Regions from separate parts of the Homo sapiens genome. Here all the other regions are reported to be linked to region 1. The links are microRNA targets in miRTarBase. Many come from high-throughput screens and were not tested one by one. Region 1 holds a microRNA gene; each other region holds the end of a gene's coding sequence.

Region 1 (4,291 bases):
CTCGTGGCCCCTTCCCCCATCCCCAAAGGCAGCAGTGTGGCATCTTCTCTCCTGCCTGACCTCTGTTCCATCCTCACATCATCTCTGACTCTGAACTGTATCTTTCCCTTATAAGGACCCTGTGATGACATTGGGTCCACCTGGATCACCCAGGATCCTCTCTCCATCTCATGATCCTTAACTTTATCATATCTGCAAAGTACCCCCACCCTTTTTTTTGTTTGGAGACAGGGTCTTGCTCTGCCACCCAGGCTGCAGCCTTCACCTCCCAGGCTAAAGCGATCCTCCCACCTCAGCCTGCCAAGTAGGTGGGTCTACAGGCATGCGCCACCACGCTTGGCTAATTCTCATATTTCTAGTAGAGATGGGGGTCTCACCATGTTGCCCAGGCTGGTCTCCAACTCTTGGGCTCAAGTGATTCTCCCACCTCAGCCTCCTAAAGTGCTGGGATTACAGGCGTGAGCCACCCTAACCCCCAGAACCTGTGAATATATTCCCTTGGATTCAAAAGAGCCTTGCAAAGTCTGTTCCCTCACAACAGGCAGAGGGACCCTTTAAAAACCTAAGCCAGATCAAAAATACACCCATTTTCTCAGTTTGTTGTGGAGAGAAGATAAACGTGTGAATCCACCCAGAGACCTGTGGGAGTGCTGGACAGGCCGAAGGGGTCCGGGGGCAGCTGTTCCTGCTGTCGTGTTAACATCACGCTGATTCTCTGCTCACCACCCACAGCGGCTTTCATCTCCCAATCGGTAAAAAGCCAAGTCCTCACTTCAGCCAACAAGGCCCTGCAGGGTCTGGCTCTCTGTTCCCTCCCTGTCCTATCTGCAGCCCTCCTGCCCCATGGCTCAGGCCGCAGCCTGCAGGCCTCCTTGCTGCTCCTCCTACACACGGGCTCCGCCTTCCTGATGGCCTTGGCACAGGCTGTTCCCTCTGCCTGGGATGTTCTGTTGCAGAGGATTTTCAGTCTTTCCTCCTTAAGTTACTCTGTTTTGTTTATTTTTAAATTTTTTTATTTATTTAGAGACAGCTCTAACTCTGTTGCCCAAGCTAGAGGGAGTGCAGTGGCACAGTCATGGTGCACTGCCGCCTCGACCTCCCAGTCTCGAGCAATCCTCCCACCTCACCCTCCCGAGTAGCTGGGATTACAAGCCTGCGCCACCACACCCAGCTAATTTTTGTATTTTTGAAGAGACTGGGTCTCACTGTCGCCCAGGCTGGTCTTGAATTCATGGCCTCAAGTGATCCTCCCACCTCGACCTCCCAAAGTGCTGGGATTATAGGCGTGAGCCACCATGCCCAGCCCTGACAGTATTTGATGTATGTGTTTTCGTGGTGCTGTCTGAAATGTAAGCCCTGTGAGGACAAGTGTTTGGACCACTTTATTCACCACTCTATCCATGGAGTGAACAGCAGTGCCTGGTACCCCATGGGCACCCAGTAGGTGCTTGGTGAATGAATGAAGGTGCAGAGCCAGGCTTGACATGTTCCTGAGCCCTGTGAGGTTACTGAGATGCAATCATTTTGCAGATGAAGACACTGAGTCCTGGTGGGCCGTGAGGTCAGCGCCAGACTGGATCCTGCGGCCGCCTGGCTGTCTGTCCCTCTCGCTGGCCTCGCACACCCTTCCTGGGAGGAACAGGAGAGGAGGGGAGGTGTGCAGGGCTGGGGTCACTGACTCTGCTTCCCCTGCCCTGCATGGTGTCCCCACAGGGACAGCATGGACAGTGTCAAGCAGAGTGCGGCCCTGTGCCTCCTTCGACTGTACAAGGCCTCGCCTGACCTGGTGCCCATGGGCGAGTGGACGGCGCGTGTGGTACACCTGCTCAATGACCAGCACATGGTGAGCCCCCAGCCCTCACACCCCCGGATACCCAGGGCTCCCACCTCAGCCCTGACCCCCCTGGATGCCCGGGGCTCCCACCTCAGCCCTCACACCCCCGGATACCCAGGGCTCCCACCTCAGCCCACGCACCCCCTGGATGCCCGGGGCTCCCACCTCAGCCCTCACGCCCCCGGATACCCAGGGCTCCCACCTCAGCCCTCACGCCCCCTGGATGCCCAGGGCTCCCACCTCAGCCCTCACGCCCCCGGATACCCAGGGCTCCCACCTCAGCCCTCACGCCCCCGGATACCCAGGGCTCCCACCTCAGCCCTCACGCCCCCTGGATGCCTGGGGCTCCCACCTCAGCCCTGATCCCCCTGGATTCCTGGAGCTTCCCCCTCGGCGCTGACGTTCACCAGACACCAGAAACCATGATCCAGTGTCCCCGGTACTCATTACCTGCCCAAGTGTCCAGAAACCCTCCCATCCCCATCTCTGACACTCCCCTGGCTGGCCAGGGATCCTGTCCAGTGACCCCCACACCCCTCACCAACCACCCAGTCCCTTAGAAAATCCCACTCTGTTTCTAATACCTGGAGATTCCCCCAACAGCGCCCATCACCTGCGCACCAGCGCAGAAACCTTGACTGTCCCACCCCCACAGTCCCAACCCTCTAGAGTCTCGCCCCTTCACTGCTCCTTACCCAGCTGCCTGGGGTCCTGCCAGGGACACCCCACACACCCAGGTCAGTGCTGGCCATGGCGCCCGAGGCCCCGTGGCCTCCTCACCCCACCCCTAAAGCACGCACAGTGACACATGTGCACACCCCTAAACCCCATCTTCCCGACTGCACACACATCCCGACCCTGTCCCGCTCCTGAGCCTCTGCTCTCAGGTACCACCTCCCCCAGGGGCCTGACTTGTCTCTCCTCTGCCCCTGCAGGGTGTGGTCACGGCCGCCGTCAGCCTCATCACCTGTCTCTGCAAGAAGAACCCAGATGACTTCAAGACGTGCGTCTCTCTGGCTGTGTCGCGCCTGAGCCGGGTGGGTGTGGCCTAGATATTGGCTGCTGGAGGTGGCCCTGGCATCCCTATGCCCTCTGACACCCCTCAGGCCCCCACTCTCCCTGAGAGGCAGCCCAGCCCAAGGTTTACAAACTCAGGCTCTGAGCTGGATTCATCCTGGCTCGGCCTCTTCCTGGCTGGGTGGCCCTGGACAAGTGGCTTCACCTCCCTGGCCTCAGCTGCCCCCTGTGTTCAGTGGGGATAATACCGGTGCCCACCTGGAGGCACAGAGCGCTGTGGATAGAGTGCTCAGAACAGGGCCTCGCGGGCCGAGCACCCCGGGAGCCAGCCGCCCTCATGACCTCCTCCCTCTCCCACTTCTCTCTCTGTCTCCCACTTTCCCTCTTCTGGCTTTGCCTCCCGCCTCTCTCTTTCCTGTGCAGCCTCTCACTCCTGCCTGGCGTCCCTCTCCCACCTTTGCTCCTGTCCTGCCCAGGAACATCCCCTGAGGCCTTGTGCATGCCAGGCTCCATGTCGGGTGACACCAGGGACACAGATGAGTCAGAACCAAGCTCTGCTCTTAAGGAGCTCCCTGTCCTTCTGGCAGGGAGGTGACTCAGTCACAGATTGTCAGAAAAGGGGTGACTCGTGCTATAATGGAGGTAGGATAGGTCACCCATAGGAGGCACTTAACACAGCCTGTGAGTCCACGAAGGCTTCCTGGGGGCGGCGATCCCAGAATTGAGACTTAGAATACACATGCGCATCTCCTGGGCAGTCAGGAAGAGGCCTGGATTCGCAGGCAAAGAGAAGAACACACCAGCTCGTGCATCCACTCATTGTTTCTTTTTTTTTTTTTTTTTTTTTTTTTTTGAGACGGAGTCTCGTTCTGTCCCCAGGCTGGAGTGCAGTGGCGCGATCTCGGCTCACTGCAAGCTCCCAGGTTCACGCCATTCTCCAGCCTTAGCCTCCCGAGTAGCTGGGACTACAGGCGCCTGCCACTATGCCCGGCTAATTTTTTGTATTTTTAGTAGAGACAGGGTTTCACCGTGTTAGCCAGGATGATCTCGATCTCCTGACCTCGTGATCCACCCGCCTCGGCCTCCTAAAGTGCTGGGATTACCGGCGTGAGCCACTGCGCCTGGCCCACTCATTGTTTCTTTCTCAGGTTTTTTTTTTTTTTGAGACAGGGTCTTGCTGTCGCCCAGGCTGGAGTGCAGTAGTGCAGCCATGGTTCACTGCAGCCTCTGGCTCCTAGGCTCAAGCGATCTCTCGCCTCAGCCTCCCGAGTAGCTGGGACTGCAGGTGCCTGGCTAATTTTTGTATTTTTTGTAGAGATCGGTCTTGCTTTGTCGCCCACACTGGTCTCAAACTCCTGGCTTCAAGTGATCCTCCCGCCTCAGCCTCCGAAAGTGCTGGGATTACAGGTGTGAGCCACTGCACTCAGCCTCAGTCATTGT
Region 2 (4,291 bases), not on the chromosome of region 1:
TTATTTCCTCTGTATCCATTTTTATGAAGGTACTGAGAGATGTGCATCAACAAAATAAGTGAGTAAACTAAGAAAGAAGAATGTACTGGATCTTATAAAAAAGGACCAACAAAGAAAAATATTTTTTAAAGTCCTAGGGTGACAGCCTATAGAGCAACCAGTATGAATGAAGTAGAGATCTGGGTGCAAGATCACCAAGAAATAAACATAATTGACAGGTATCTGATATATTTGAATATTTTGAGAAGAAAGAGATTCAAATTAGAGAATGTAAAGAAACTAATATTAGTAAATGGAAAATTATGTAAGTACAAAACAATTTTCAGTTCTAGGAAAAATGTTTCTCAAGAAAGGAAATTTAATCACACTACACTAATGTGTATTTTGAAGAAAGCTTAGCAATATGGACACTATTAGTTTAACTTAAAAAAAACTGTAGGCTGGGCACTGTGGCTCACGCCTGTAATCTCAACACTTTGGGAGGCTGAGGCAGGAGGATCAGCTGGGGTCAGGAGTTCAAGACAAGCCTGGCCAACATGGTGAAACCCCATCTCTACTAAAGCTACAAAACTAGCCAGGTGTGGTGGTGGGTGCCTGTAATCCCAGCTATTCAGGAGGCTGAGGCAGGAGAATCACTTGAACCTGGGAAGCAGAGGTTACAGTGAGCTGAGATCACACCACTGTACTCCAACCTGGGCGACAGAGTAAGACTCTGTCAAAAAGAAAAAAAAAACTGTAACAATTTTATTGGGAGAATAGGAGAAAGGGAATGTGCAGTGCTTATATTGGTTTACATTAGTTGAAAAGAAAGTTAAATCTTTTTTAAAAAATACATAGCAAGAAGTGATTAAAATGTAAAATGGAGTAGCAAGATTTAACAGCAAAAACATATCATTTAGAAGTATTGAGGTAATTCTAGAAGAAGCCACTCAATAGAAGGAGACTGGAAATTAAAGAAAATATTGTTCTGTTCTTTTCTTTTCTTTCTTTCTTTTTTTTTTTTTTTTTTTTTTTTTTGAGACGGAGTATCGCTCTGTCACCCAGGCTGGAGTGCAGTGGCAAGATCTTGGCTCACTGCAACCTCTGCCTCCTGGGTTCAAGTGATTCTCCTGTCTCAGCCTCCTGAGTAGCTGGGATTATAGGCACGCACCACCACACCCAGCTACTTCTTGTATTTTTTAGTGTAGATGGGGTTTCACTGTGTTGGCCAGGCTGGTCTTGAACTCCCAACCTCAGGTGACCCGCCCGCCTCAGCCTTCCAAAGTGCTGAGATTACAGGTGTGATCTAACCCACCCAGCCAAGCCACTGAGGCAGGCCTTGTTTTTCTTTCAACCTTTAGTTCATCTTGATTTTTACATTTGAAAATAATGAAATAAATTTACAAAATAAAAGGAAAAGTGAATATCTTTCCAACAGTCCACCAATATCCTCATCCCAAAATTATCAAAATGTTTTAATATTCCTATTTATTTTCATGCAGTTTATTACATTTTGTTTGGATTATAAGCCATGATCTCTCTCTCTCTCTATATATATATATACACACACAAAAGCATTAAAAATATTAGCCAAGTAAGTGTAGTATATTTAAGAAAATAATACAAGCACAAAGTTAGTATTGAAGTATAATATTGATCACAAAATAATATTTAATTTACCATGAGCACATTAATAATGAAATGTTTCTCTTTAAATGCTGTGATTTAGAACTAGATGATGTGGCTTTTTAAATGAATAAATAGAATGTTAGAATAAGGTTGGAAGGGCAGATATGACTTCTCCCATGAAGAAACTACAATACACAGGTGGTTAGGATCATAGGATGCAGACAGTGAAAAATACTAGGGGAGCCTGGGCACGGTGGCTCACGCCTGTAATCCCAGCTTTTTGGGAGGCTGAGGCGGGCGGATCACTGATATCAAGAGTTAGAGACCAGCCTGACCAACATGGTGAAACCCCGTCTCTACTAAAAATGCAAAATTAGCTGGGTGTGGTGGTGCACCTGTAATCCCAGCTACTCGGGAGGCTGAGGCAGGAGAACCCGGGAGGCAGAGACTGCAGTGAGCCGAGATCACGCCATTGCACACCAGCCTGGGCGACAAGAGTGAAACATCGTCTCAAAAAACAAAACAAAACAAAACAACCTAAGAGAAAAATCAAAGTCAGTTTTCTAGAATAAGAAATAATAATCAGTAAATTATTGTACACTTGGAAAGGATTAAAACCTTAAAATTATTCATTAGAAATGGATTAACTACCTGTTACTTAATATAAAAAGGATTTACAATGTTATTCACAATGATATGCAATACTTGAAAATTGAAAATAGGCCTGGCCGCCTGTAATCCCAGCACTTTGGGAGGCTGAGGGGAGTGCATCTCTTGAGCTCAGAAGTTAAAGGCCAGCCTAAGAAATATGGTGACGATCCGTCTCTACAAAAAATACAAGAAGTAGCCGGGCATGGTGGCGCACGCCTGTAGTCCCAGCTACTTGGAGGCGGAGGTGGGCTGGTCTCTTGAGCCCAGGAGGCAGAGGTTGCAGTGAGCTGAGATCCTGCCACTGACCTCTAGTCTGGGTGACTAAGACTCTGTATCAAAAAAAAGAAAAGAAAAGAAAAAAAAAAGGCCGGGCGCAGTGGCTCACACCGGTAATCACAGCACTTTGGGAGGCCGTGGCGGGTGGAACATGAGGTCAAGAGTTTAAAACCTGCCCGGCCAACGTGGTGAAACCCCGTCTCTACTAAAGATAAAAAAAAAAAAAATTTAGCCGAGCGTGGTGGTGGGCGCCTGTAATGCCAGCTACTCGGGAGGCTGATGCAGGAGAATTGCTTGAACCCGAGAGGCGGAGGGTGCAGTGAGCTGAGATCACACCATTGCACTCCAGCCAGGGCGACAGAATGAGACTCGGTCTCAAAAAAAAAAAAAAAATTGGGGGAGAAAAGAAAAAATTAAAAATACAATTAGTCGTATTGCATAATAACGTAACTAGTTTAAGACTAAATAATATTGATATGGTTACATAAAACTAAAAAAGTACATGCAAATGTAAATAGCATTCTTACTAAAAATTAAATCCAAAGCTATTTCGAAAGGTGGAGTTTTCTTCACTATTCTTCCCAAGACCTTTTGCCTGGATATTAGGGATAACCGGTTTTAGGAACTTGAATTCATTTGTCTCGGAACCTCCCGTCAGACACACCTCGTACTGGTAGCTCTGGGAAAGGGTCCCGGTGCCGCTCACGTCCACCAGATGCCCTGGAAAGGGGCCCTTAGGCACCGAGCAGCTTCCCACCGAGGCCGCCCTGCTCCTCCTGCACAGCCGCACCGCCACGAACAGGAGCACCGAGAAGAGGAAGAGCGAAGACACCGAGGCCAACGCCACCACCAAGTAGACGGTGAGCGAGTCGGCCTGGGCCTGGGCCGGTGCCGCCTCAGGGAGCGGCAGGTAGGGCTGGGAGAAGCCGTCCACCAGGAGCACTTGCAGCGTGGCGGTGGCCGAGCGCGGAGGCTCGCCATTGTCCTTGACCAGCACCACCAGCCTGTGCTTGGCCGCGTCGCGCTCGCTCAGCAGCCTGGCGGTGCGCACCTCGCCATTGTGCGCCCACACGCCGAATAGCCCGGGCTCCGTGGCCTTGAGCAGCTGGTACGACAGCCAGGCGTTCTGGCCCGAGTCGCCGTCCACCGCCACCACCTTGGTCACCAGGTAGCCCGGCTCGGCCGCCCGGGGCACCAGCTCGGTGCAGGGCGCGGAGCCGTTCTGCAGCGGGTACAGCACGAAGGGCGAGTTGTCGTTGGCGTCCAGCACCAGCACGCGCACCAGCGCCTCGCTGCTCAAAGCCGGGGAGCCGCGGTCTGTGGCGCCCACGCGGAAGTCGAAAGCCTGCAGGGCCTCGTAGTCCAGCGACCTGAGGGCGAACAGGTGGCCGTTGTCTGTGTTGATGGAGACCAGGGAGGCGAGGGGCAGGTGCAGGTCCTGGGGCGGGAGTAGCGAGTAGTTGACCTGGGCGTTGGTGCCTGAGTCTCTGTCTGTAGCGCTGACACTGCCGATGTGCAGGGCGGGGCTGTTGTTCTCGCGGACGAACAGGGTGTAGGAGGTTTGGGTGAAGGTGGGGGCGTTGTCATTGACGTCAGAGACCAACACAGTTGTGTTGTGCTCGGTTTTCAGCCTGGGTATCCCCAAGTCGGTGACGGTGATGGTGATATTGTACTCGGCTGTGCTCTCTCTGTCCAGTGGTCTCTCTGTTTCCAACGTGTAGTAATTCTCAACTGAAGATTTTAGCACGAATGGGAG
Region 3 (4,291 bases), not on the chromosome of region 1:
TGATAGGGTGTTTTGCAGATTTTTTATAGCTTTTGTTTTTGTTTTTTTTTAGAAAGTTTCTCTGTCATCAGGCAAAGACCAGGGTGGGAACAGGAAAACTAGAAAACTGGTCAAGGGAGAACAAGTCCCTTTTCCTCTCACCAGTGAACAGCAGGTGAGGAAACAGACTCTGGGAGGAACGCTGTTCAGGATGGCTTGCTGCCTGCATGGCATGAGGCTGCTGTCTTGTGGGTGCTGGCAGCCACAATCTCCATTTTTCTGAAGACCACCATTTATGGCTAGATCCAGTAGAGGTCCAGAACTTTCCCAACACTGCTGGAGAGGAAGTGTTTCACAGTCAGAGGAGAGAGCCATGGGGAATGGAAGCAGGGGAAGAAGGGGTGGGGAGGGGAGGAGAGATGAGTGGCTCTATGCTAATCTTAGGGTTCCTTCTCTGCCCTTTTGGGTACCAGAGACAGACCCTAGGAAAGGAATTCTGCAGACAGTCTTGGAAGCACCTTCTCTGGCACTTAAGGCTTTTTCCCGAATTTCAGAGACAGAAACATACCCATCCTTGAGCAACTGCAGTGAGGCAGTGTGGAATTCTAGGGTGTTGATAGCTGTGAGCTACCAGGCCTGTTGGACATTTGCATTCTGGCATTTTAATTCCTTGTCCTAAGATTTTGACTCTTTGCCATGTTCTTGGAACTCCTGGATCTTTCTGGAGTCTGATAGCGGATCAAAATCTCAGCTCCATTCAGCAAACACAGACGCTTCTGGGGGAGAGCTAATGGTCATTTTTTCATCATGGATCAATTGTTCAAGATCAAGCACCTTTCTGATCACTCTTGTCCACAGAGAAAAAAACACATTACTCCACAGTTGGCTTCTCAGATTTGATGTCTAGTTGTCAACCTGAGACCTTCCTTGGAAGCATGGCTTCTGCACAAGTGGGTTACATTGACTGTACCACAGTGGCTCTTAAAACAAGGTTTTTGACCTAAGGAGCCTGTTCTCCAGGCTGACCTGAACCCCTCAAAGACATGGCAAGCAGGTGACATTTCTGCCCAGGGGATTTGCTGAGAGATCTGGAAGGTACAAAGCCACCTTAGGCTTCAATGGGTGAGTGAATTTTTACCACAAACCCCAAAGGGCTGATTTGACTTTCTCTATTATGTATATCCAACAGAGAGAGCAGGCTTGGGGAAATTTTGTCTGGACTCAGAAAATTCATCAGTTTCTTGGGAATCATCAGCTACTACACTTGAAAGACCAGAGTATGGTTATTCCCCAACACCAAGTTGGGCCTTAATTTTCCCATCTGACCTGTCTCTAACATGTGAATCAGTCCCACCTTCCCTGACCACATGAGTGAAGTGTTTCTGTGATGCTTGGCTGTAGATGCAGTGTGACAACTGCCTGAAGCACATGATCTCAGGCACCAGATGGCACTGCTGCTCAGTAGAGCCATATGCTAACAGCCTTCCTAGAGGACACTGGTAACAGCATTCTCCCCAACTATTAAGCTTTATTGTTTTGTTTAAGCAAAGACCAAAGAAGCAACGAAGATACAAGAATTAAAACAGCAATCCTTGCTGGGCACGGGGGCTCACGCCTGTAATCCCAGCACTTTGGGAGGCCAATGTGGGCGGGTCACTTGAGGCCAGGAGTTCAAGAACAGCCTGGCCAACATGGTGAAACACCGTCTCCACTAAAAATACAAAAATTAGCCCAGCATGGTGGCACATGCCTGTAATTCCGGCTACTTGGGAGGCTGAGGCAGGAGAATTGCTTGAACCTGGGAGGCAGAGGTTGCAGTGAGCCAAGATCGCACCACTGCACTCCAGCCTGGGAGACAGAGCAAGGCTCTGTGTTAAAAAAAAAAAAAAAAAAAAAAAAAAAAGGCAATCCTCAACATGGTGAGATGCAGCCACACCCAAAGAACCCCAAAAGGGGCCTTATGGTAGCAGGAGGATCCTAAATGTGGACCCTCACAAAGGGAATGCAGCCCAAGTTAAAAGTGCTTCTTCCTTTGTTAAGGAAGTGATTATGTGAATAACCTCAGTATTCTCAGTGGGAAAATATCTGGCAATAAATTTGTAGCCACAACTTGGAAGTTTCTGGAAGAAATCAACCTCCCACAGCCACCTTTGGCTGACTGCTTATGTTAGGTCTGTAGACTTCCTTTCAATCAGCCGGCAAAAGCCCCATCTGGCCACTTGGTCACAGTTTTACTGCTTCTTCACCTTTTGTTCCTATTCACCTACACATCACTTCCTGGAAGTGGACCAGCTTTATAACCAACCTAGAAAGATCAGGTTGAATTTGGCTTTAGAGATCTGAAGCTCCTCAATTTTCTTCCCTCTGTGGAAGTTTTATTAGAATAATCTCTTCCCTTTGTTGTCCTCTTCCTAACTAACCTAATCTCAAGGCTCAAAGCTTTAAAGGCAAATCTTAAAATGTGCTGCATCAGAAAGCCAAGGCAGAAAGCCGATCACCTAACAGGCTATTGTAATTTAAGGCTTCAAATAACTGTTAATAGTGTGTATCTTCTGTTTTGCCTAAAAGAAAGAGGCTGAAATGTCAATTATCATTTAGAGTTGTGAGTGAATTGCATTTTTATTTACGTTTAAGAGTCTCTCTCCCTCCTTGTGTTCTAGTCTGTGAATGGCTCACACTTGGACTTAGTGTAGGCTCCTATGGGAGGAGCGGGCGGTAGTGAGAATCTTCATCAAATGGAGTAACATGACCCAAATCTCTAGAGGTTTCATAATTTTGCTCTTGCTTCTAAAAACATAATCATCTCTTATGGGGTGTTATGTGCTTTGTATCCTGAAATTTTCCACTTGCTGCTTCTTGGTGTGAGGCGAGAAATGCCACCACGTGGCACTGCAGGAGGAGACTGGTGGAAGCCACAGGGCTAGGCCTTCACTTCCCAGTGACACTGTTCCCAATTCCCTCCAGGATAAGCTGAGACTCCTCAGGATGTGGTTCTGCAGCAGATGAGGTGCGAACAAAGCCTGCTCTGCCCTGGGCACCCAGGATGGCACTGAGTTCTAAAAGGCAAAGGGTATGTGGTGAGGGGCCAGGCTGAGGCCCTGGTGTGGTACCATCATGGGCAGCAGCACCATTTGAGGCCGGGTAGGAGAGACGTGCAGGGCCTGGCCCCCCAAGAGACCAGCAGACAAACTGAGGCGGCAGAGAGAGAGATTCCAGTGTCACCAGGAAGACTGCAGATCATAACAACAATGGTTGCTGATTTGGCATCAAAGAGGTGGCACTGTCAAAGCCGTAATTGCTGAAAATGGCACCAACATGCTGCAGCTGGAGAGAGTGGGTGACCAACATTTGTTTGAAGAACAGATGATGCTCTTTGAATGGCTCAGCCAACAGCCCAAAGTTTTAAGGGAAGACCTCTCTGCCAGCTTCTCTTGGACAGTGTCTCATGTAAAACCTCCAAGGCACTTACATAGCATATTTTTGTGTCCACTCTCTTGCTAGTCTGTTGTACCTGGAATAAAAAAGCAGAGGAAGTGACACCCTCACTTGAAATGGTCACTTCCCTTCAATGTGCTGCAGAGAACAGGACTGATGTGGGGAATGCTGCTGCTGCTGCTTGTCAAACATCTACGGCTGATGGGTGAGTGGAATAAAGGCTTTCCCTGGAGCAGGAGCACATCAGACATGGCTGTAAACCCCCAGCTGGGTGAACCCCTCATGTGTAAACCCCAAACTGTTGATTCTCCATAACTATCTGCTGTGGAAGATTTAATAATGCAACAGACTTCCTCCCTTTCTTTCTCCTGTCCTACAATATGGATGCAGGGAGGACAGAGAAGAGACACACAAAGGTCAGTTTGTACTAGTTACAGGCCGTCCAGCACACAAACTCCAGAACAAGGGCTTGGGAATCTGCCTACCGGGGTGTGCATCAGTACAGTCCTCAGCAGCTGTTCCGCCCCTCTGTGTCCTGGCTTTTTTGATTGCTTGCCATGGGGAAAGTATCTGCCTTGTGTGCTTGTGGGGAAACTAGAGAAGTCTGTATGTAAAGCACATGGAGCAGGCCAGGCATCCATTGAAGACTATGCAGGTGTGTGCACTTACTCTCATCATTGTAATGACACTTGATGCTATGAGACTATAAATTAGAGAGATTTATAGTTACAAGAGGCACTGAAAAAAAATCACTTTTGGTATGTCTAAAATATCTTGTAAAAAGTGTTAAAATAAACAAACCCAGTCAATTAAAAATTTTGACTGTTATTGAGAAAACTCCAATGAGGGAAATAATAAGATCTATAAAGGTCTTAAG
Region 4 (4,291 bases), not on the chromosome of region 1:
CTCTCTATTCCCACTGCTTGACTAGCCAGGCTTAACAGGGAAAAAAAAGCATTAGCACATGGCCACCTTTCTCCTGATGGGAAGAATCTTCCACCATTCTGCTTGGCAAAGTTCTGAAGCTGGACTATAGAGGGGAGACCAAGAACTCACCTTCTTCTGCAGTTTTGCCCCCCAGTGTGAGGAATTCTAATACCTGTTGCTTCATTGGTTTCTACAGATAATTTAGCTAACTAGCTAGCTAGGCAGGGAGCAATCTAATCCACCTTGGTACTCTTCTTCTTCTCACAGGTTGAGTCTCCTTCTCAGATGGATGTTGAATTGGTGAGTGGGTCTCCTGTGGCACTCTCACCCCAGCCTCGATGTGTGAGGTCTGGTTGTGAGAACCCTCCCATTGTGAGTAAGGACTGGGACAATGAATACTGCAGCAATGAGTGTGTGGTGAAGCACTGCAGGTGAGCTTACAGTTCTCCCTTTTATAATTCAGCTACTGGTCAATTCTACTGGGAAACATAGGAATCTTGAGCATAAAATCAGCATCTCAGTGTCACCTTACCTTAGGTAGAGTAGGTTGCTGTATCTGGTCTACTAGAAAAGCTCCCCTGCTTAAGAGCTTACATTTGCCACATAAGCCAAAGATGATGTAATCAGCAGTTCACATTTTTCAGTTACCACATACCTCTCTTATGTATGCTCTTTAAAAATATAATACATTAAGCTGTTAGTGTTTGCAAATATTAGCTTTTCAATTCTTGGTGCAAATCAGACTACTTAGGGAACTAGAATTTGGGGAGAAATGGTAAGTGGAAAGTAACACATAATAATTTGCAATTTGTGAAGGAAATGGGGAGATGGTTGGAATATTTTACCCCTCTCCCCAAATTTTCCTGGGAATTTCCTATAGCTGTAGGACAAGGCATTTCTATTTCCTATTTCAAAAACTCTGCAGTAAATTAGCATTGCCTCTACTTCTGACTTTTAAGCCCACTGTTCTTATATTTTCAAGGTGATACTATCTCACCATAATGCTGTAGGAAATTATCTGGGAACCTATTTGTTTAAGACAGATAAAAAATCCAGCTGGGCCATACAGTGAAACCCCATCTCTACTAAAAATACAAAAATTAGCCGGGCATGGTGGCAGGCACCTGTAGTCCTGGCTACTCAGGAGGCTGAAGCAGGAGAATCTCTTGAACCTGGGAGGTGGAGGTTGCAGTGAGCCAAGAAGATCACGCCACTGCACTCCAGCCTGGGCAACAGCGAGACTCCATCTCAAAAAAAAAAAAAAAAAGATAAAAAGAATGTAGCGGCCGGGCGCGGTGGCTCACGCTTGTAATCCCAGCACTTTGGGAGGCCAAAGCGGGCGATTCACGGGGTCAGGAGATCAAGACCATCCTGGCTAACACAGTGAAACCCTGTCCCCACTAAAAATACAAAAAATTGGCCGGGCATGGTGGTGGGCACCTGTAGTCCCAGCTACTCGGGAGGCTAAGGCAGGAGAATGGCGTGAACCCATGAGGTCCGTCTCAAAAAAAAAAATGTATCTAGGCTGTAATTCTATTTCAGTTTGTGTATAATTCTGTTTGTGTATGTCTTTTTCTCTCTTAGGGATGTATTCTTGGCCTGGGTAGCCTCTAGAAATTCAAACACAGTGGTGTTTGTGAAATAGTCCTTCCTGTTCTCCAAGCCAGTGAAGAGTTATCTGCTGGGAAAGTGTCCAAGAGCCTGTTTTTGAAACACAAGCTGGGCTTCTGGTAGTGCCTCATCACAACCCATGATGGCTGTTCATGTTTCACCCCTTTTCTTCCTTCAGCAGAGGCCAGGCTATGGAGCAGGGCCACTGAATTTGCTGTAATCTGGAGATGCTTTTTACTTTCAACCATAAGCGGTAATAGCAGAGGAAAGGGTGAAGGGAGTCTGGGCAAGCAAAGCATAGAGATGGTGGGGTGGTGGTGGGGTTGAAGAAACTTGTTGGTATAATTGTCATAGGACTTGCCTAAAATATTATTAAAATTACGGGAGTGTACTCAGCTTTGAGCCTAGGAGAAAATGCCACTGTGTGCATCCATTTTAAAGGGTTCCCTCATAAAAAAATGTTATTCCCCATTATCACATCAGTACACTGCTTTGAAAACAAAACTTTTCAACATGGGCATACTGGGCTACATGGAAAATGACATCACCCAGGAGTGATTTCTCTTTATATATATTATTTCTGCAGTTACCATCCTTATCTGAGTTATCACAGTTCATGAATCTAAGAGGCGGAACTCTACATCATTAGTAAGAGGTTCCACCAAAGTCTAAAGTTGTATTCACTTGTGTTTGATGAACTATCTTTAAAAGACCATAGGTCTATCATTATTTCTTAGACATAATCTAAAGAAAAACAGACTAGAGAAGCCACCTGGTTGTAACAGAATAAGCAGAAGTTTACAGCATGATAGTCCAAGTGGTGATAACTTTAAATAAAACTCAAATTTTTACTGTTTGTAGACAGGAATGCTGTCCTAGAGAACCTCCTCCTCAACCAGCTACGTACATAGTTTTATCCTATGCATTCCTGTTTTCTGTGTGTTTTTTGTTTTTTTTTTTTTTTTTTTTTTTTGAGACAGAGTCTCGCTCTGTCACCCAGGCTGGAGTGCAGTGGTGCGACCTCAGCTCACTGAAACCTCTGCCTCCCGGGTTCAAGCGATTCTCCTGCATCAGCCTCCCGAGTAGCTAGGATTACAGGCGCCCGCCACTACGCCCAGCTAATTTGTGGTATTTTTAGTAGAGACAGGGTTTCACCATGTTGGCCAGGCTGGTCTCGAACTCCTGACCTCATGATCCGCCCGCCTTGACCTCCCAAAGTGCTGGGATTACAGGCATGAGCCACCGCACCCAGCCTGCATTCCTGTTTTTTTAATGGTTTTGGAGGGTAGCAGTAGAGATGGGGTCTCACTATGTTGCCCAGTCTAGTCTTGAACTCCTGGGCTACAGTTACCCTCCTACCTCGGCTTCCCAAAGTGCTCGGATTACAGGTGTGAGCCACTGTGCCTAGCCTATAATGATCATTTTAATGTTTCCCATGCACTCATTTAGTTTGAACCTTCACAGCAACCCAATGAGGTAATACTCCCATTTCACATATAATACTGAGAGATGAGTTGCACAAGATTATACACTGTTAAGTAGCAGAGCCAGAATGGACTTCAGAATCCCAACTACAATACAAATGTTTATTTAAATAAAGAAGAAAGCTATTGTACAAATATCACTCTTCAGGTTTAGCTTACAGAGCCATGGCTATGGATTCTTAGCTCTGTAAGGAAGTGCTTCTATAAATTCTTAGGTTTAGAGATGATACCATCTGGGTACCTTTGCTTGAACCGTGCAACCACATCTGGGTCTAGTAGGTGGATCCCATCCAGTTGGTTTCCAAGGGTGATCCTGAAACAGTGTAAAAGGAGGGGCAAACCAGAAATCCTGGAATTAGAGGGTTTAATATTGTTAAAAAATGCATACCAAATGAAGACTGCCTATCATCATATCAAATATGCCAATTCTAAAAAGAGCTTAACATTAGAATAGTATATGGTAGAATTACTAGTTCAGAATTGGCATAGATTCTGGTGTTAAAATAGACTGGATCTGTATTATCTGAGGGTTAGTAACTAATGCTTAGCCAGGCCTGCTTCACAGAGTTGCTACCAGGGAGTATTCTTTGGATAAGCAAAATGCTAGCAGCATGTGTTTTAAGCTCTGTTAAGGGGTGAAAGATGTAATTATTGACAGATTAAATAGATAACTTCGTAACCACCAGGGGGCAGATTCAATACATCACAGAATGGCTGAGGAAGATCCTTGGGTTGTGAAGAGAGTAGAAACCCTAGGGAGCAGTGCTTTTGGGTCCTAGAACCTGTTGAGTTTCTAATGAATATTTGTAGAATCTCATAAAACAGTTTAAATACAAGCTTAAGTGGCTTATGAATCCTGTGAAGCTCATTTATGGACTAGTGTAAAACAATGTGAAGCTCTACTAAGTTCTGTCCTTAATCATAAATAATAGCCCCTTGAGGACTAGCCTGTTCTCTGGTCACCTTACCAGTTGGGTTGCACATTGTGTGGTCGTCCAAATAACTCAATCTTGCGAGTGCCAGGAGATAGTCTTTCAATCATGCCATAGATTTCATCTGGTTTATGACTGGTGGAACGAACCTAGGAAATAAAAACTAGCTGCTTTTTAAGTTACACAAGATTGCAATTCTAGCCCTTTCTATTATGTTTATGATCTAAATGAGAAAAATCTGGG

The links. The annotated mature microRNA hsa-miR-6799-5p reads GGGGAGGUGUGCAGGGCUGG and lies in region 1 at 1,650-1,669, shown strand. An mRNA with a match to its seed (bases 2 to 7 or 8) in the 3' UTR can be bound and repressed. Matches are read on the target gene's strand: a 7mer-m8 pairs with bases 2 to 8, a 7mer-A1 pairs with bases 2 to 7 and ends in A, and an 8mer does both.
Region 2: miRTarBase lists PCDHB11 as a target of hsa-miR-6799-5p. Seed matches in the 3' UTR shown: 7mer-A1 at 2,664-2,670, 7mer-A1 at 2,358-2,364 and 7mer-A1 at 1,890-1,896.
Region 3: miRTarBase lists UBE2D4 as a target of hsa-miR-6799-5p. Seed matches in the 3' UTR shown: 7mer-A1 at 2,680-2,686, 7mer-A1 at 1,779-1,785, 7mer-A1 at 1,747-1,753, 7mer-A1 at 1,612-1,618 and 7mer-A1 at 171-177.
Region 4: miRTarBase lists TOX4 as a target of hsa-miR-6799-5p. Seed matches in the 3' UTR shown: 8mer at 2,840-2,847.

What each region holds. Positions count from the first base shown.
Region 1 is chr19:49,790,222-49,794,512 of GRCh38, forward strand. It overlaps MIR6799 (microRNA 6799), which reads left to right and starts at 1,645; the gene lies at 1,645-1,713. It overlaps AP2A1 (adaptor related protein complex 2 subunit alpha 1), which reads left to right. Exons shown (of 23, transcript NM_130787.3): 5 at 1,714-1,843; 6 at 2,770-2,871.
Region 2 is chr5:141,200,939-141,205,229 of GRCh38, reverse strand. PCDHB11 (protocadherin beta 11) reads right to left here. Exons shown (of 1, transcript NM_018931.3): 1 at 1,451-4,291. The coding sequence ends at 3,062. It also overlaps PCDHB@. Among named protein-coding and RNA genes, the nearest start is that of PCDHB11, 3.5 kb to the right of the region's middle.
Region 3 is chr7:43,951,849-43,956,139 of GRCh38, reverse strand. It overlaps UBE2D4 (ubiquitin conjugating enzyme E2 D4), which reads right to left. Exons shown (of 7, transcript NM_015983.4): 7 at 4-3,490. The coding sequence ends at 3,445. It also overlaps the pseudogene POLR2J4. Among named protein-coding and RNA genes, the nearest start is that of UBE2D4, 28 kb to the right of the region's middle. RefSeq lists silencers at 1,342-1,391, 1,432-1,501.
Region 4 is chr14:21,494,941-21,499,231 of GRCh38, forward strand. It overlaps TOX4 (TOX high mobility group box family member 4), which reads left to right. Exons shown (of 9, transcript NM_014828.4): 8 at 289-452; 9 at 1,606-4,230. The coding sequence ends at 1,666. METTL3 (methyltransferase 3, N6-adenosine-methyltransferase complex catalytic subunit) reads right to left here. Exons shown (of 11, transcript NM_019852.5): 10 at 4,085-4,197; 11 at 3,198-3,429. The coding sequence ends at 3,318. Among named protein-coding and RNA genes, the nearest start is that of METTL3, 14 kb to the right of the region's middle. RefSeq lists enhancers at 3,732-3,821, 3,852-3,901.